2 separate regions of the Homo sapiens genome follow, and region 1 is linked to region 2. The links come from fine-mapping of genetic effects on gene expression. A gene starts in region 2. The other region holds a variant in brackets. All regions are shown on one strand. Distances are between the middles of the regions.

Region 1 (8,000 bases), 180 kb after region 2:
TATTTATGCTTCATACTTTCACTCTCTTTCCTTACTATCATCCAGCTACAGGTCTGTTGGCACATGCTTCATCCCTGAAGTCTGGGTTCCCAAGGAAAGACTCGGTTCTAAACAGGCTGAACGCTTGTAGTATCTGAAGGTGAAGTCCAGTATACAACTGAAAGTACCCAAATGGAACATGCTTACATACGGACAGTAGTTGGAATTAAAAAGTTTGTTCCATTTGATAAGAGTCAAAAGTGAGCAGATCCTTGGGAGGGAGTTACTCATACTTAAGGAGTGGAAGAAAAAGCAGGAAAGAGAAAAGGAAAAAAAAGTCTTTGGGAGTAGAAAAAAACTAGACTAGCGGAGAGTATTGAAAGCTAATGCATTGTGTGTGTAGTTGGTTTCATCCAACACTATGGGCCAGGCATCAAGCTAGGCAGTTGACATGATGAAATTAATTAATTCTCCCATTTAATTCTCATAGTGACCTTTAGGAGGTAGTATGAATAATTTCATTTTGCAGATGAGGAAGATGAGGCTGGAACTCTTGACCACTAAAGTTGGTCCTAGATTTGGAGAGGATGCCTAATAATGTCAAATGCTGTGGAGAAGGTGAAGGAAGGAGGCAGAAGAGAAAAGGTAATTGGGACAGATGAATAGGTATTCATAGGGACCTTCCAGAGAATTGGGCAGCTAAGCATTTGCAAAGAGCTAGGGAAGAAGAGGGCAAATTATCTTTGAAAAAAAAGTGAGGGTGGTAGGAAGCAAATCCTGAGAAGGTAACAGTTTTATAGGAATACTACTGTTCTCTTAAAATAATTTTTTTAAAAAGTGGGAGAGGGACACTTCTGATTTGCATGCATTTTACATAAATCTGCATAGCAATTTCCTAACCCTAAGGGATCAGATGTGGTTGCAAGAAGCAGAGAATTTCAAGGATGTCTTAAAAGTGTTTTAGTGTTCCCAATTCACTCCACCCTTCCATGGAAGTAGCTCTTATTGCTGTCATTTTCACAGTATAAGAGCAGAGCAGTCAACTTCAGAAATATGACTGAAAATCATGTTCATAAACGTTTATAGACTGAGTGCTTTCCTCATTGTGTCTAGAGGGCTGGAAATGTGCCCTTGGTCTTGTATTTGGGTCTATGCTGCCACACTGCAGTACTGAGGTTAGGGCACATGCTCTGATGTGAAGAAACAGTTCAAATAATTTAATTACTTATTCAGATGGTATTTTTTCCTTGAAGATATTCAAGTCTCAAATGCTTGTAGATTGAATATTTTAATAGGGAAAGGAGGTGAGCAAATTGTTAATATTAATAATTTATGTCTTTCAAATGATCTTTTGAAGTATGCATATAATTTGTGAACATTAACTTACAAACCACCCTTTCTGGAATGAATTGTGTGATAATTACAATAATTGTAACAATGATTGTAATAATAACAATCTCCTCTCTAGATAGAGCACTACAAATGAAAGAGCAAAATCAGATAAAATGAGGGGGATCAGCCCTGACCAGCAAAAAAGGCAAGTGGGATTATCTCTTGGGTTCTCATTAAGTAACATGTCATCTAAGTGCTTAGCTTGGTATCTTCTACTTTCTAAGATCTCAATAACTGCTAAGTGGGTCTGAAATGGTTCCCATAAATCAGTGTGTGTGACAGAGGCATATAGCATGTTAGACGGTGTAGATAATCAACCCTGTGTAGTGACTTAATGAGGCTGGCAACGTCTCTCCACCTAAAATCTCCTGCCAACTAATATGCCACTGTACCTGAAATTCCACTGTGGTTGATTCTGATTTTGGTCTTTTAGTTAAGTCCTAATTTCTAATCAGTATTCATATTTTCAAATTCAAGCATCCCTTCCACATTCTTGTTAACCCACCAAGGTAATTTGTTATTAATACACTAAGAGTATAGTGTGAATTAGTTTGAAGGTTTTCCTTTCTGTGATGTAAGGGTTTGTCCTGAAAAGCTAAATGGACTTGTATAAAGCATGGGGAGGTTTTCTTAAAAAAGAAAAGAGATAAGCTTTAAAAGTGAGGCTGTTTATGCTTCATAATTTCACCCCCTTTCTTTACTATCACCCAACTGCAGGTCAGTCAGCAAAGACTTCATCCCTAAAATCCGGGTTCCCAAGGAAAGAACTCAATTACAATTTGCCCTTGAGGATGTCAAGATCGATACTGCAACCTGGATGTTCATCTCTGACTATCCCTACTAAACCACCACTCTCTTTTCCTCTCCATGTATGACCCATTTTATTTACCTCCCTTGAACTTTCTCCCATGTTAACATTTTATAAAGATGGGGAAAGATTTACCCAGGGAAACTCTTGCAGGAACAGCTCTTCGGTCAATCCAAAATGAAACCCATGAAAGCATCACCATCAATATGGCTGGGAAATAGGTTTGCAGCACAAAGAAGAAAACATGCCTCCTTAGCACAAAGTTGATGAAAAGCCTATTGTACCAACCTGTGGAAAAAAGCCAAAGTTTTCATTAGAGCAAGCTTCCCCTTAGAAACACTGCACTTAGTGAAATGACCTGCTTCTTTAGACTCCAAGCTCTTGGGGACACGGAATTTGACAAACTCATCTCCATTTAGTTGGGCCTGGCACTCCATCAACATTTGTTCAACCAGCTGAACTGCAGTCTGCTTAATTATTTGACTCAAAGATCCCCTTTAACTTCCAAACCCGCAGTTCAGGGATGAATAGTGGTTATCTTTTGTGGGATGGCCTCTAAAGATCTGTCTCCACAATATATTGTATTGTGGCGTTTCTGCAAGAGGGAAAGTCTTCAATACATGACTAATAATGGCATAAAAGAACCAATAAACCATTTATTAGCTATAACAAATGAAAAAAACATTTAACTGAATGAAAAGATTCAGAGTATGTACTAGGTCATTGGATTTTGACCTGAGATGGAGACAGCTGGGGATTCAAAGGAGAAAGAAAACAGCATCCATAAGCTAGTTTTACAATTTTAAAGTCTCACAAGTACCATAATTTGTGCATGATGAATCTGCAAAAAAGTAACCAACTGATGTTTCTTTGCTTCCTATTGAAATTATATAAACTCACGTTGGTAATATTAACTGCGCTAATTAAAAGCACCATTTGTGGTGACATCCACACACACATTTTGTTCAGGTTTACCTCTCCCATTGACTACAAGGAAGTTTAAAGCCAAATTTTCAGACATCTACAGGACTTCTCTGAGCACCATTCTTTAATGACCACATACACATACCAGGATATATATAATACCTTATCCTTGTTTTTCTTTTTTTTCTCATACATTTCTAATTTATATTACCTTGCTTTATTTCACAATAACTATGTGCTAATCTTGTTAAATCTTTACTAAAATAAGGCAATACATGAGGAAACATGGAAATACATCTTTTCTGAATAAGTAGCAAGATTTTTTTTCTATGATAAATGCTGTTTATTTTCAAATAACATTATTCAAAACACAGGGACTATAGGTCAAAAGTTATAAAATAAAAATCATAGGTATTGCAGAGTTGGAAAACCCTTCTGCTAGTCTCAGCAGTAATTTCTTAGAAACCCAAGACGGCAAACCTATTAGATGGATCACTTAAGTACTTAGGCATTTGGCCTAAGAAATACACCTGGCCAACCCACACTGAACTGGCAGACTCTACTCTTAGAATCCTATTCTCAATGAAATACTCATTATCTTTTTCTTCCTTACCTAGTTCTAAGCTTCTAACAGTCAGTTTATATATGTTCAGGAATACCAAACAATTTTATTACCAGGAGTAATAAAATATACATCACATAGTACATTATAAAGTTAAAATATAAATTATTTTTAAGCTTCTCATTGTCTTGTATCACCTACATCACAGCCCCAATTTATTACTGTGTACCACTGAGAGTTTCAGTGATGGCTGTAGAGTACAATAACAGCTTTCTGACCTTACAACTTTATATAACTACTGTGAGGTTAAAAGAAATAAGGAAAACCTGTGAAAGAAATTCAAAAGAAAGACAGTATTAAGGTATATAGTTTTCTGTTCATTATTAACTTGAAATAAAATTAGTTAACTGCATCCTTTCTTTATTCATAATTTTCTGAAGAACAGTTGTCCTTTTTTTTTTTTTTTGGTGGGGTGGGGGCAGGGTGGAGTAACCAGGAAGTCAAACTGTGGCTCTGTCTTGTGGTTTTAGAC[T/C]AGGGGTGGTATTTTAGTTGAACCTGCAGGTCATGGGGAGTCCATTTCCCTATCAGGAAAGGTGGTGCTGCCTTGGAACGTTGTGAAGCCTTCATTTTGGGTAGTACAATAAAAAGTCTGATTCTATTTTTGATGTTTGACTGCTAAAAGCTCTCAAGCCCAACTTCTCCTTCTGCCCTACATCTGAGCAAGTTAATAAAAAGCCTAGGTCTCTTTTTGGCACCTGTGAAAAGTTCAAACCATGCATCTTGTCCTACGACAGGCAGCCTTCACCCTAGCTGCACCCCCTAGCTACCATAAAAACCCAAGCCAGTAGCCCCTTCCTGTTTTCTCAAGCCATTTTTCATTTCAGACCTGCTTGGGAGCCTGCCCATCTCTCTCTAGAAAGCCTCATTATGTAAGTAATAAATCACTTCATACCCTTTTGTCATGTGTATGGCATCATCAGTTTTGGCATCTGAACTAAATTTTGGATGGGGACGGGTACATCTGCCTCCATTAGTTTGCCATACAGTAGAAAGAAGAGGAGTTAATAACAGAGAGAAAAAGGCTAGAGAGTTGGCACCCAGGGAAATGGAGGACTGGGCCAGTATTTGGGGAGTCAGTCCCAAGACAAGAATAAAGAAGGTTTTTATACCTAGAGACAGTCACCTTCAATGGCCCTTTGAAAGTAGGCCTTAATACTCTCTATGAAAAGGATCAAAATAATGTGGATGAAAATAGGGTGATGATGACAGCTACTAACTAATATTTATTGAGCCTCTATTATATGGCAGATAACATTCTAAGGTACTTAACTATATGACATCATGTATCCTCACAACCCTATGATATAGAGAGTATTATGAAACCCATTTAAAGATGAGAAAGTTAAGGGTTAGAGAGATTAAGCAACTTGTCCAAGGTCAGGTTGCTAATAAATGATAGAGACAGGGTTTGAACTTAGGCAGTCTGTTTCTACTACTTACACATTCAGCCATTAGATTATGCTATGATAAAGAATAATTATTCAATGCATCCCTTAGGGGCAGGAGTCATTTCTTTTTTCTTTGTAAATTTATAGTGCATGATTTTGAGAATTTTGAGAAAGGGATCAGGAGGCAGAAGCCCTCATCTGCTTGTTAATATTGCCAGGTCGTGGTGATTTTTGAACAGTGGCAACGGTAGTGGTGAAGGCCAAGAAAAAAAAAAAAACACCCTGTTGTTCAGCTGTAAAATGGAAACTAAGGTCCTATAACTATATTTCTGACTCTTATAGCCAGAGTCAGATGTATAGTTTTTCTATACACCTGGGAGTGGTGGTTGTGGCTGGTAGTTGTAAGGATAGGAGTGAAGAAAACAAATCAAAAATTATTTTTGAGGAAGCTAAAATATTTAAACAGGAAACTAGTCTGAAAAAGACACTTGAGTTTGTCAGAAGATTATGTTTAATGATTCGTGGATAATGTGAGGCAGAGCTATCACATGCTCATGAACTAAAATAAGTTTCTAAATGTAATCTTTCCGAAACCTAACTAAGGGATGGTTAAATGAACCCAGATATGATTATTGATTTGATATTTGAATACAACTTCCAAAATGCCTCCCTTCGGCATTTTTCCTACCAATCTCTGTCATTAAAAAAAATGGGTATATTGTAACAAATTAAAAAATACAAGTGTTTTTTGTACCTACTTCTCAGAGGTATCTATTGTTAATCTTTCTAGGCTTTTAACACACACACACACACACACACACACACACACGATATGCACAGATATGTATATAAGCACTCATGCACTCATAAATATGTATACATACATTCTTCAATAACAAATATGGGATTTTTAAAATATATTCTTCCGTAACTTGCTTTTAAAGAATATTAATGTATTATGGATAAGTCTCCTTCTCATGTTACACAAAGCATGTACATTTGAACCTAATTCTAATTTTTTTTCATTTTTCTTAGGAACCAAAATGATATTTCTTAAAAATGTAACTACCTTTGAACGTTAAAGATTTGTAAGTTCATTTTAAAATGCAAGCATCTTTGTAAGCAGTAAGTTTTTCCATGCCAGTATTTTCCTGGCTTTAGAGAGATTCTAAAACATGACCAGAAAAAGATATAAATCAGCTAGTGTTGTAGCTGCCTGGTAGGGCTCAAAAAGTCTGACAAGCACAAATAAAATTATGGTAGAGCAAATGGAATGATTTAGTGGTAAAGTTAGAATTTTGAAGTGAAATTTAACTTCCTGTTAGGAGGACGGTTGGATATATGTTAATGGATAGTTGTGCTTCAAAAGCTAAAGAAATGCCATAATTATTGTATATTTTGCATATGTTCTGTGCATGAGACAATTCTTTTTGATTTCTATGCTTCATATATATTACATTATATTAGCATTAAATGTTGCAAATATCTATTTACAATTTATCATATGCCAAAGTTATTTTTCATTTTAGCAATAGTAAAATGAAAACACATCCTATAAATTATACTTCACATATACCATGCTTCATTGCATACATTCTTTTATTTAAATATTAATTTAATTTAGGATTAAGTAAGAACATTAAAAATCCTGATAAATATATGCCTATATTTATTCATATAGAGAAAGACAAACCGAGAAAAGGAGGAGAAGAAGGAGGAGCAGAAAAATATATCAAAATAATAATATAGTTTATCTCTATGAGGTAGGATTACAAAGAGATTTTCCTTTAAATTTTTCTGAGGTCTCTTCAAATTATCTAACATTTATTCATTCATTCAATAATTAGCCTTTGAGCATCTACTATGAGCCAGGGATATATCAGTGATCAAAACAAATAAATATGTGCTACTTACATAATCAGAAAAGGCAATAAACATGATTAAAATTGAGAGCATCATTTGCTGAATCCCAAGCAATGTAGACAAATAATGGAGTGAAATAGAGAATTTCTTCTGGGTCTAAATAGATAAATAGCTGTTGTTCCTAGAGAATCATTTAACTTCTCTGCAATGTCAACTTCTACTTCTCTCTTAAAGCTGCAGGTTTTAGATACAAACTTGATAACTACTCTCCAAGATCTGAGAACAGAGTGGAGAATCTTTGAGGAGAAGAGACACCACTATCAAGGCAGAGTAGGTAAAGCATTCTAGCCAGGACAGCTCTGAAACTCAGGGACAGCTGTTGGCACACTTTCTGGCTGGCCTAAGCATGGCTGCATTGAATCTGAAGTGGCATTTTATATGGATTCGGCCTAAAATAACCCAGAATATTAATATCCAGAAGGGGAATGATAGTGGAGGGTGAGGAGGGCAGAGGGGAACCGAAGGAGGCTGCTTCCAACTTTAGTCAATGGGGATCACATATAACTTTAAAAGGTGTCTTGGATAAAAGTTGTCAATTCAGAAATATATCTGTCATAGTAAAGAGTACTATATAGGCCCAATTTTGGATAGGTTTTCTGTTTGGGGCAATGATGCACTTTATGGATGGATTCATTCAGCTGATTTTTATTGAGCATCTGTCACGTGCCAAGAACATTCCAGGTGCTGCAGAAGAAATGGTGAGCAAGGCAGACAGATTCCCCACCCTTTTCCTGGTGAGGCACTCACACAACAAAGCAGTCAAATAAACGCATAGTTCAGGTGATGGTAAGTGCTGTGATGACCGAGATAGGGAACGGTGAGAAAGGAAGCCTGTTTTACACGGGGTTGGTTTGGTTAGGAAAGCACTGTTTGAGAAGCTATTTGAACAAAGCTCTGACTGAAATGAGGGAGAAGGGCATGAGAATATTGGGGGAAAGCACCCCAGGCAGAGGGAGGACAAGGC
Region 2 (12,402 bases):
CAAATGACTTATATAGAAACTGACTACTTAGAAGAGCTTATTTGGGGAACTGAAAAGAATAAAAATGAAATAGAAGATAGGACATAGAAATGAATGAAAACTTAAGAATGGTTATTAATATGAAATCAATTGAGAATTCTTTTTACTTTGATATTTCAGTAAAAATTTCTATTGAATGCTTATAAAAATATCATTCCTTTTGCTTTTTGTTCTTTGCTAAACAGAGTGCTTCTGCAGTGACTAATCAAACCCCATCATAACAGGGGTTTGGATAGAAATTACTGTCCTTTTAAAGTCAAGTACTCAACATCCTTTCCAGTAACTTTTTGGTCTTTTTTTTTTTTTTTTTTTTGAGACAGGTTCTTGCTCTGTCACCCACTCTGGAGTGCAGCGGCATGATCATGACTCATTGCAACCTCAACATCCTGGGCTCAAGCAATCCTGCCATCTCAGCCTCCCAAAGAGCTGGGACTACAGGTGCTTGTTACCACACCTGGCTAATGTTTTTCTTTTTCTTTTTAGTAGAGATGAGGTCTTACTCTGTTGCTTAGGCTGGTCCCAAACTCCTGGGCTCAAGTGATCCTCCTGCCTCTGCCTTCCAAAGTACTGGGATTACAGGTGTGAGACACTATGCCTGGCCTCCAGTAATTTTCAAAGTGAGAAATAATCGTGGAAATGTGACTAAGTACATTAAATAATAGTTATTACATCTTTTTCATGTTGATATGTGTTTTTTTTTTTTAAAGACATATAGCTAGGCAAGGTGGCTTGTGCCAGTAATCTCAGCTTGCGAGGCTAAGGTGAGAGGATCACTTGATCCCAGGAATTCGAGGCTACAATGCAGTAGTGAGCTAAGATCACACTGCACTTTAGCCTGCGCAAAAGAGAGCCCATCCCTAAACCAAAAACAAAACAAAAACAAAAGGACAAATAAAACACATTTTAGTATCTGCAGTCTCATTCATAAAATTTCCAGAGGTCATGGTAAGGGGCAAAACAAAGAAGAAAACCTAACTTCTTGTCTTCTGTTTACCTCTTTTCATAGGTAACTGCTTTTTTCCTTTACCAGTGAAAAGCTGACTAGAAGAGGTGAGGAAGGAATTCAATTGGTAGGATAAACTAATTAAAATATTGCTGTCTGGTTCTTTTGTTCATTATTTGCAAATCCAGTTAAGTTATACTTTAAATAATTTTTTACAGGTCTTTCAAAATGAAAGTGGGGTCATTAAGAAATGTACTTGCCCCATTTTTAAGAAGTAAAAAATTATGTCATCTATAGTAACATTTGGTTTTATAAGCTCCATATGGATTTTTTTTTGCTACTACCTTTAGCAATATTTTTAAATAAATTTTTCTGGAAGTTTGTTAATGATACTTTCTTTCAGAATGGAGTAAGATTTCCATAGACATGTCAAGTTTATATTCAGCACTATGTTCATCATTTCATCACTCCAAATTGTAATCAAAGTGAATAGATTTCTATTTTATTCTATGCAAAGAAAATTCATGTACAGGAAATTACGTTAATCTCAATTTTAGATTAGGTAAAGTTCCCATGTGAAAACTGGTTCATTTTATATGACAGCATGTAGCATTTCCAGCTGCTTTCTCTCCCTAATCAAAACATTTGCTCACAAAAGCAGCTGCCACTATGCCTTGTTTTTAAACCATTTGCAAGAAATCAAACTGAGAACAAAGTACCCATAGTAAGAAAGCTCTAGCTTCTGGGACATGTATACTATAAAACGTCACAATAAGATAAAAAGGAAACCAGTTCACAGCCACTTTTTCTGTTTTGTTTGTTTTGCTCCAAAGCTTTGTTTCATAAAGCCCTAAGAAACAAAACTTACAACTAACAGTAATATAATGCAGTCTAGAAATTTATAAATAATCATTCTTTATGGAATACTTTTAAAATTGTATATCAGAAGTGCATATTACAGTGCAGAGTTTATGAAGTCAGATGAAATATTTTGGGAAAACAATATAGAGGATGAATTTCTCATCTAATAGTAAATTATTATTCTGAGCCATTATCTACGTCATGCTTATGAAGCTCCATTAATAAAACTTAATATCTTACATATGACCTTATATTTTAGATAGCATTTGACTTAGATAAAAGACACATCACACTGAATTGGTGTGAACAACTATTTTGGAACACATGTTATAATCAGTGTTTGTCAAAGACATGCTACCCCTATTTATACATTTTTAAAAGTACGTTTCAATATTAGCAAATTTTGTGCTGTTTGAAAGCTATATATTTAATTTTTAATGTTAATGTTATATTTTTGTAAAGGACTAATTTCTCTTTGAAGTATCATCATATCAAAGGGAGAAAAGTGTAAATGTAGTTTAGGTCAGACTAACACATTTTACTTAATTTAAGCATTAAAAGATGTGTGTTCGAAAGATCTCAATCTCCACATGTTCCGCAAACAAAAACCAGACAAACAATACAATAAAACATCATGCATCTCATAGAAGTTGGAATAACCAATTACTTAAAAATTTTACCATCTGTTCTCATTGAAGCAGCAAGACAGGCATTTCCCCATGTTACAAACCATGATAATTAGAAAGTAACAATGAGAAATGCTAACATCATTTTTCCCCTTTTTTATTTGCTGTGGGAGTTCTTAATGAAAATTTGAGCATATAAACAAAGGAAAAGAGAAGATATTCCCCCCACCCCACCTCCTAATTGAGTGCTTATATTCAGTAATAGCTTTTTGCTGCCCTGGGCCGCATGACACTGCCTCATTTGGCCACGCACAGCTATTATTCTAGGAGGCAGCTAGTGAAGTGCCCCAATCCATCTGCTTGCTTTTTCATGGGCTGGTGCTTTCCTTGATGTTGACAGCTGTCTTAATATTCCTGGGCCACCTGCCACACAGTAAATACTGTGCTCTAAGATATATACAGAAGCTTATTCCCTGGTGGACTTTTCAGAACAAAAACGCTTAGCATTACTAAACTACTCTTGCAGTTTAAATGCTTCAAGGATCAACACTTTCATTCTATTCTCATACCTTTGAGAATGGTACTTACGTTGTGGGAATGGCAATTCAGTTACAGTGTGATGAACTTCAGGATTTCTCATATATCACACAAGTTATTGAATTACAGTATTATAGGTGGAAATCAGGTGCTAAAAGGAGGCAGAGAAGAAGAGAGCATATTAACAGTTATCTCCTCTAGTGAGCCTTCCAGGAACCCTTCAGATTAAGTTGGGGATCCGTCCTATGTTTCCCATCTTACCCCATTTGCTCATCTTGCCCAATTAAACTTGCTCCTTGATGTTAAGCATTTGGTCTTATCTATCACCGTATCTCTATGTCTAAGAATGAGCATGTATCTGACACATAGTATGCACTAGAGGACATATCCAGGTTTTGTGGGATCTGAAGTTTTTACAATTTGGAGGGTCCTCTTTAAAGAAAAAGGATTTAAAAGAAAATTAGATATAAAAATGAATATATTGAATGAAAACATAAACCATGCAAATTACTAATTTTAAAAGGTTGACTAGAAAAACAATTTGTTTTCTTACTAAATGCCTTGCACAATCACTTTTTTTCCTATATTTTTGGCAGTGTACTCTTCAATAGCCTTTCATATGACAATAATTTAGTAATATTATTTTCCATAATAATGAAAAGATAATGCAATCTTTCCTCTAGTTCTGTTTTTCTTATTGATAGAAAGGCTGTGTAAACATGCAGTACTACACACACACACACAAAGCTTGTGGTACTGCTACAGGTTTGTACCCTACAAACAAGAATTCTGATAAATTCTATTTTACATGGTTTACATCAACAAGAAAAAATGTTTTGTGTTTACAGTTATAAAAATTATTTTGGGTGGCTGAGACGGGTGGATTACCTGAGGTCAGGAGTTCGAGACCAGCCTGACCAATATGGTCAAACCCCGTCTCTACTGAAAATACAAAAATTAGCTGGGCATGGTGGTGGGCGCCTGTAGTCCCAGCCACTCTGGAGGCTGAGACAGGAGAATTGCTTGAACCCAGGAGGCGGAGGTTTCAGTGAGTTGAAATTGCACCACTGCACCCCAGCCAAGGTGACAGCGCCAGACTCTGTCTCAAAAAAAAAATTAAATATACTGCATTATTGAATATATTATTGCTATGAGAGAAATTACATCAATCGGAGGCAATCCTTCCTGTTGAAACTTTGTCTTCTGATGCCTGGAATAATTTTCCACATGACACCTGATGCTGCTTTACCTTTCAAATCTTGTCTCACCTCTATTACCCACATATTTTCAGTGTCAGAGACCACAGAATATATCTCCTCTGGCTCTGCATCTTGGGTGTAATACTTGGTGAGCTGCGCTACAAACAAATTGGAATTTAAGAAATAACTATACTTTGGAGAGGCTGGAAACCACATAAATATATTCCACTAAGTCCAAACTAAATATATTCCCAACTGAAATTCCCTAGCAGATTCCCAAATGCTCTTGATAACTCTAAGTGGAAAAGAAAATCTAAGTGGACATCTAAGTGGAAAAAAAAAGAGATTGTGGTCTTAATCACATTAAAACATTTACTTTTGTAAATTTGATAAAACTGGCCATGGATCCCATTGCTGAGTTCACACTGGAAGAGACTGTGCCAGCAGGGAGCCAAGAAACTTGAGCCTCATCGGCTTCACTGTAGATGTGCTTCTACTGCAGGCACTCACTAAACGTCGGGGAATAACTGGATCAGTGAATTAATGACACTGTGCTAAATTAGTATCTCTAAGATCCTTACAGCTCTAAAATTTGACATTTTTACAGGCTTCCTAATGCAATCTTAGAATTTAGTATTTAGAAATTTGTTCATATGAGTTCAGGTTATAACAATGTAGGACATATAGAAAACTAATAAGTGCTCAGAAAGCAAATGAAGGAAAATTCAATGGTCATTGTTTTATGACTTTAAGCTATTTTGTCATAGACGCAATTTGTCTTAGTGTAAACATGGCATTATTTGTATTTACCATTCACTTAAGTGCTTTGCTGTGCTACCGAGTGGAGATCAGAGTATTGTTAGATATATTATTAGTTAAAACCATAATTCATTAATTAAATCCTATTGACTCCCCCCCATTTTTATTCCAAGAAAAACTTCCTGAACGAAGTACCCTCTGGGTAGGCACTGGGGCCTGGTTTGATCACAGAACAAGTCAGGGACAAATGTGATAGTCATTCAATAATACGTTGGGAAGACAAATTATCATTTGGGCCTTTTAGCTGGAAGAAACAGTTTGCTTTATTACTCTCTTTGGGCTTTTTGGTAAGTGGGTCTTCAGTGGAGATTCTCTTATAAAATAATAAAGCTAGAATTGGGAACTTGTCTTATTCTAGTCTATTATCTTAGTCTTTTTCTATTTTCTCAGACTAGGCTCACAGAGAAATAGGAAAAATTTACCAAAGAGTAAAAAAGGATTAATCTTGAGGGATAGACTGAGATGAACCCGATTGATGGAAATCGGGCTGACTGAACTTTAATGGGTTAAATCCTGCCAGAACAAATGAGAATGAGTGTCTTGGCTCTATTGCAGTTAGTAGGAGCTGGAGGGCTTCTGGGAGGCAGCGTGGGGAGGCAGGGAGGCTCAATAGCCTCCAGCAGGTGCTGAAAGGACTTGGGGCTTATAGGTATGCAATCTACTTATGAGCAACCTTCTCCTCCAGCACCCGAAAGCCAGAGGGGAGATTACTCCAAGGCTCCCCTCTGCTGTGGACATTTCATTTTTATCTCATTTACTTGTATACATTTTTTAATGAACAAAAGCCATATCACTTCCTTGACGTCTACTCCAGGGGCAGCTTGCCTTCAAACAAAAACAAAACACTTGGGGTGAATGGGCCTCTCAGTATCTCCTGTACTAGCTGCTATAGGGTATGAAAAACCAAGAAAAATCCATACCACTGTACTTAGACTTAAAACAAGTCTTAAGCACCCTTTGGTTCCCAGATTTCAGTGGCATCTGTGTAACGACTGCAAAATATGTTGCAGCATTGACAAGCTTGAAATCATACTTTTTGATCAGTGCCGTTTTTGAAAGAGTTCGCAGGGAAGTATGGCGTGTGAAAAGTCTGAAGCACAGCGCGGTTAGGAAAAGTCACACCACAGAAAGCCAGCAGAACGCGCCGGGAGGTGGTGACCGCCTGACAGGTACCCCCTTCTCCCTCCCGCCGCCCGGTTCTGTGCTAACGCGACTTTCGCCCTCAGGGTTGGAGCTGTATTTGCGGTAGCTGTTTCTTAGCTCCCAGCAAGTCCGGGGCGCCCCGGTACTGCAGTTTGCCAAGTGTTTTCACAAACCTTAGTTCATAAACCTCTTTCAAAAGCCCGAAGAAAACCGTTTCTGTGCTCTGACTGTAGAATAGAAAACACAACGGTCACAGAAAGTAATTGAAGGCAAAGCCCAACAGGCTGCAGCCTGAACTTGTTTGAGCCGTAAGCCCGAGCCTAGCGTCGCACGCTGGGCGACTCCCCTCAGGCTCTCAGGCCGGCGCCTTCGGGGGACCACGTAGCGCCCCAGCGGTGGCGGCTGCGCCCGGCTCAGGGCGGTGCCGCGGCCACTGGCTCCTCCTCGGGGTGGGGCGGGCCGCGCCGGGCGAGGGCGGGAGGAGGAGCAGCCGCAGCGGCGTGAGGAGCTGCCGCGCGAGGAGCGCGTCGCGTCCGCACTTCTCCTGCCCGAGAGAGACTGAGCCGCGCTGGCAGCTCGCGTCGAGTCGGTCTGCCCTAGCCGCATCCCGCGGCGCCCGGTCGGGCTCCGGGCACCAGGCAACACCTAGGCCGTTCCCTTCAGACAGCCCCGGGCCAGCGGCCCCCTCGGGAAATGTCCAGCGGCCGCAGAAGGGGCAGCGCCCCCTGGCACAGCTTCTCCCGGTTCTTCGCTCCCCGAAGTCCTTCCCGGGACAAGGAAGAGGAAGAGGAGGAGAGGCCGGGGACGAGCCCGCCTCCAGCTCCAGGCCGGTCCGCTGCCAGGTGGGAGTCGAGGAGGGGGTCGCGGGGGGGCCCTGCACATATTCGCGGGATGAAGGCTCCCGGCCTGACCGCCGGCAGCGGGCCGCTCTTGGGCCAGGCTGCAGTTCGCTCGCCACTTTCTGTTCTCCTTCCTCCATTGCTAAAGTTTCCTCCTCCTTGCCCCGTTCCCGTGCCGCACTACTCGCCTCTCCTCTGCAGGTTAAATCGGGGTGAAGTTCTTGCCCGGCAGCCGGACGCATATCCCCCGATCCCCGCCTGGCTCCGCGCTCTTCCTTTCCCACTTTCCCCTGCCCGGACGTGATTGGGTTCCCGTTCCACACACGCTCTACTCTCCAAGTTCTGTGGCAAAAGCGATTTCCCCGGCGTCCCGCCTGCAGTAATGGGAAACACTTGTGAGCCGAGCGGAGCCGTCGGCCAGGGGAATTGGGGGCGCGATCCCAGCACCACTTGTGTGGGAGGAGATCGGGGCAAAAGTGGAAAAGGTAAAGCTTTGGGGCGTCACCCCCTCAGCTGGTATTTTTGCCATCTTATTTAAATTTTCTCAAAATGATTTTTAAAAGGAATTGTGATAATGCGTTCCCAAGACTTTCACCAAAATGGACTGGACATGTAAATGACGCCACCCTTCTTTATTTCTCATCTCTCCTAGAAACATCTGCCTCAAGTTCCCAAACAGATTCTGGAAATCAGGTTTCCAGCTGTCTTGGTTTCAGTAATCAAAATGTACCCTTTCTCTGTAATATTTTTATCTTTCCTTCACTTTCCCATGTTCAAAAATCAAAAAATTTTAGACATGCCTCATTTAAATGCCTGTTTCTGAGTCTTTTCATCCCCCCGAAGAAAGAGGGGTTAAGTAAAACGCAGCTCGCTTTCTTAAACTTATGAGAGGCTTACACTGTCTTCTCCCGAGATTGCACTAGAATGACCATTGTCATTGGAAGGACACACTCCAGAAAACCGTGTTTACTTCGGACTCAAGATTTCCTGGTGGGCTTAAAAAAAATGGATAGGAAACAGAACTGAGAGTGAGCCAATTCCATTAGTATTCAGATTTTGTGATGTGATTTTAGTCGTTTGTGTGTTCCTCGGTTTCCCCGCTTGTGAAACATTTTCATTATGACCGTCTGTTAATAACATGCCACATGTTTCCAAGAAAGCTCCTACGATAATTGAGTGGTTATTCTCCTGGGACGTTTCAGCTATTATTGCTCTGACTGTTGAGAGTTTAAAATTCAAAGTTACACAGAAGTTAAAAATAGTTTTTAAGTCTGACAGATCTCATCCAGGGTGTCAGCTAGTTCTGTTGGTGTGGGCAGACAGCCTGTGGTGCCTGCCACCGCCGTAACAGCACTAACAGTCTTGGATAATATGAACGCAGTCTGCAAGGAAATCCCAAGTAGGCGCAGCAAAAGTTGGGAACTTGAGAGTCAGTGTTAGAAAGGAGTAAGCAGGTCAAATTCAGGCTCATGTCAGTAATGGCCTGAAATCCTGCTTGCCTCTCTGCCCTATTTTGGCTTTTTAAGGCACTTCTCAATTCTAATTTCTTTACTGACTGGAGCTGACCCCTCCAGCAACTAGTTCCTTGTTCACCTACCACTTCTCTATTCTCATCATCTCCAGATTGGCACAAATTATGGCTTTTCAACGATGAAGATTTTAATTGTGCTTATATCAACGCTAATTTTGTTCTCATCTTTTTTGGAACTTGCCAGATGTTAGGGGGATAGCAGATGACCCTTTATGTGGGTGTTTTACTGTTTTAAATGAGCTTAAATCTTTCATTTCAAGGGCATAAACAAACACAAAGCCTTTATTGAAAGTTTAATAAAACAAATGGAACCGCTTTATAGTACTGAATGTCCCAGTAACACAACACCCTGATGTTAACAAGATTGGAAACAGAATTGCAATTTGTCACTGTGATCTTATTTCAAAATGAAAGAGTATTTTGGCTATTTCTCTTTGTGGGCATAAAAACTTTTATCATTATGAGAGCTGGGTATACCTTCTGTAGTGATGATTTTAGATGAAGAGGAGTACAAAATTAAAAAATAAACTAAAACATAATTATGAGACCCGTAAAAGTCGAATTTACAACATCCTGAAACTGTTTTTTTGCCTGCTCACAAAATGCGTACTGGGACAAACACCAGGTCTTTGGGGAGCTGCCATGCCTTGATACAGGTCTTCCAATATTTTACTGTTTTGAACCATAGGAAAATCTTTGTTTTTATGGTGTGCTGTGATTTATATGGGCTTCAGTTGGTGACAACACTTCATTATGTATTCTTTCTTTGTCACAATTAAAGAAGGCCTATTAGCATCAACACTATTGTATATCCCAACTTAGGCGTAGGCACTCAAATTGCTTGATTGTACTCATATTAGGTGGTTGACCATTTCCAGGAAATGCTTATATTAATTTATTTTAGATGATAAAAAGGAAAACTGCAATTGAAGTTTTCATAGGAAACTCAAAAACTCCCAGAGTTCTGTGGATCCCAGTTTGAGAATCACTGGTGCAGTGTTAAGCCCAGTTTATAAGCATACAAGGAATGGACTCATTAGAAGTGATAGGGGAGACCAGGAAGTGCTTCCTGGTAGGGATGATTTTAACTGGGTCTTCAAGGAATTGGTGATGTTTCTATACAAAGAGAACTTAGGAAGAGAGAGAATAGGGAACAGGTATTCCGGGAAAAGGCATTCCAGACTGAGCAAAGGCCTGCAAGGGGTTTATGATCTGTTAGGGGATATATACATTAATGGGACAGAGTGAAAGGAGCAGTAAGAAATTTAGGTTGGAACTGGGTTATAAAGGTCTCTAGACAAAATGTTTGGCTCTAGATTTAAGGCTCAGAGAATTTTTGCAAAAGCCTGTTATACAGATATTGCTGAAATATGAAACTTGGAGGAATTCCTGCCTTTATCTGCTTCAAGAAATGATTGCTCAACTTTGTTTCTTGGCTGTATCATGCATGATGGACCTGTTTAAAATGAGTTCTGTGCAATGTTTGTAACTGTGAAGAGAGATGGTAAGGTGAGAACAGTATTTATCAAGGGCTGACTGTGCACTTACTTCTGGGCTGGGTACTTTTACTTGCAACGTATCATGTAAATCTCACACTCAGTGTGAAATGTTGGTCCACTTTTACGATCTGACAATTGAAGAAACTGAGTTTGGGAGAGTGCTCAGTGATGGATGCTATGGGCGTTTTGAATGGAACAATTCTTTGAACTGGACTCTTTTGTCCTTTGCAAGATGTTTGGTATCCATGATTACACACACTAATTGCCAGTAGCATCCTCTGGTCATTGGGATAACTGAAAATTCCTCCACCCAGGTGGGTGGGAGGGAGAGTGATACCACTCCCAGTGGAGAGTGATTACCCTAAATCGTGAGAGGAGGTGAATGGGTGGGACCAGGCTGCTAATGAGCTGTGGTGTAGGAGGTACTCTGTACTGTCAGAAATGTCAGTAGTACTTCTGATGACCAGCATGGGAGAGCTATTGGCCTTCAGGTTAAACTACCAGTGTTGACAACAGCATCAGTTATGTGAGGAAAGGAAGCTTTGTTTTCTAAATTGTCATGATGATTGCATTTTTATTGATTTGAAGCACTAAAAATAATTGGTAACTAGTTAGTTGGATAGGAGATACCTGTGTCACATCAGCAGTTCATGCCTTCAGTAGTGAAGATGACGAGAGAATTCCAGAAGTCTTTAGGGGTGTGTAATTTGTGAGAATCTTGTCCCCCTCTGCTCCTCTAGGTTAATTCAAAGCAAAAGCTTACTCTTGGCAGCAGAGTCAAAATATAGCCTGTTGTAGGGTATCAAAAGTCCACCTTTTCCAAGTGATTTCCATCTCTTGGGTTCAATAAGGTGTCTACCAGATGGCTAATTTGGGAATTCTATTTTTTGCTGTGAACATTCCTTGGAAATGGACTCAATTGTATGCTCTGAAAGTGTTAAAGTTGCAAAGGTACCACAAATTGACCTGCAGTAAGTTTATATAATCAGAACTTCTAACTTTATTGACAGTTATAACATTTTTAAGTTTTTTTACTCATAACAGCGGAAAATATGTAAAAAGGGTAATAGCAAGTTTTGTAAAATAAGAGAAAATATTCCCTCAAGACAAAATATTTTCTATCCAAAGTTCTGATGAAATATACCAAAGTCCAGATATAAGAAACGTTAGTTACCAATTATTAAATAAAATGATAGCAACAAACTGTAGGTGGTTGTAAAATTAAGGAAAATAATCTAGGCTATATGCTGAAAAGAAGGAATCAGCATGAAGTAAAAGTTAAGGAGGTAATACCTACTTTGAGTCTGTTCAATCCATAAGTTAGAGTGGCTGCTTTGTGTCTCATATGGTGCAAAGCAATGTGGATATAACCATAAATGGATGACCAAATATGCCTTCATAGAATTCACACATTAATGGAGGAGATAAAAGTGTACATCTCTGTTCTTAATATGAACTCATTATAAACCAAACATGTCTTTGGAGTGTGTGACTTGTTTCGTTCAGAGCATACTTAATGTTTCACGAATGTCATACGTTGTATGAGAACTTTAACTGGGCTTTCAAAATATGTTCTCACATTATTAACTTTTCTCCAAGCATGGTTTGGTTAGCTTCCTTTGCCAAGGCAGCATAGTGGGGGAAACATGATAGTAACTGCACCATCAAGGTGAATGGAAATGCTGCCCCTTGGTTCCTCTTGCTTTCCTCCTTGACCCTTCAGGCTTTGCAAGTCCTGGATAGAGGCAGAAAAGGGCATCCCTTCGGGAATCAACATTCCAAAAAAGTGGCAGTGCTTTTTTTTTGATGGAAAGAAGTTGAGACAGGATTGCTAGACCCAAGGTCAGGGGCTTTGTCTTCATCTTTGCGTCCCCTTAGTTCAGGTGAGGAGTGACTGTTGATTGGAGCATTAAAGGACTTATTAGTAACATTCAGCTAGGGGTGGTACCCTCCCCAACCTTCAAGTAGGCACTTAGAAACACCAGGAAGGTTGATGCTGTTAGAGAACAAATCGAAGTTTTTCCACTAGTAATAAGTCATTCTTAGTGTTTATTTGGCAGTTGTACGTGGCCAAGTAATGGTACAACTCCATCCAGCAGGACTGTCCCTGAATGTTTTACTTACTCCCAGGAGTTTTTAATTGGAAGTATGCTAAAGCACTGAAACAAGAGCTTAACCAAGTGTGTGTTTGTTTTCTTTCTTCCTAATCAATTAATGATGACAAAAACAAACTAACCTTTATTAAGGCCCTACCCTTTATTAAGGGTACCCTTAATACCCTTTATTAAGCCCTGAGCTTGGAACTTTAAAAATATCAATTCACTTAATCCTCAGAGCAAACGTATCTTTACTCCCTTTTACAATAT

What was found.
Region 1: its variant is fine-mapped to the expression of CRYBG3 in whole blood (TOPMed, PIP above 0.99).

The regions. Positions count from the first base shown.
Region 1 is chr3:97,999,301-98,007,300 of GRCh38, forward strand. GABRR3 (gamma-aminobutyric acid type A receptor subunit rho3) reads right to left here. Exons shown (of 10, transcript NM_001105580.3): 8 at 2,315-2,467. Among named protein-coding and RNA genes, the nearest start is that of RIOX2, 31 kb to the left of the region's middle. The variant T/C (reference allele first, on the strand shown) is at 4,198.
Region 2 is chr3:97,815,347-97,827,748 of GRCh38, forward strand. CRYBG3 (crystallin beta-gamma domain containing 3) reads left to right here and starts at 6,665. Exons shown (of 22, transcript NM_153605.4): 1 at 6,665-7,009. The coding sequence starts at 6,861. LOC101929298 (a long non-coding RNA gene) reads right to left here and starts at 6,430. Exons shown (of 3, transcript XR_427389.3): 1 at 6,341-6,430; 2 at 3,058-3,157. RefSeq lists a silencer at 6,442-6,811.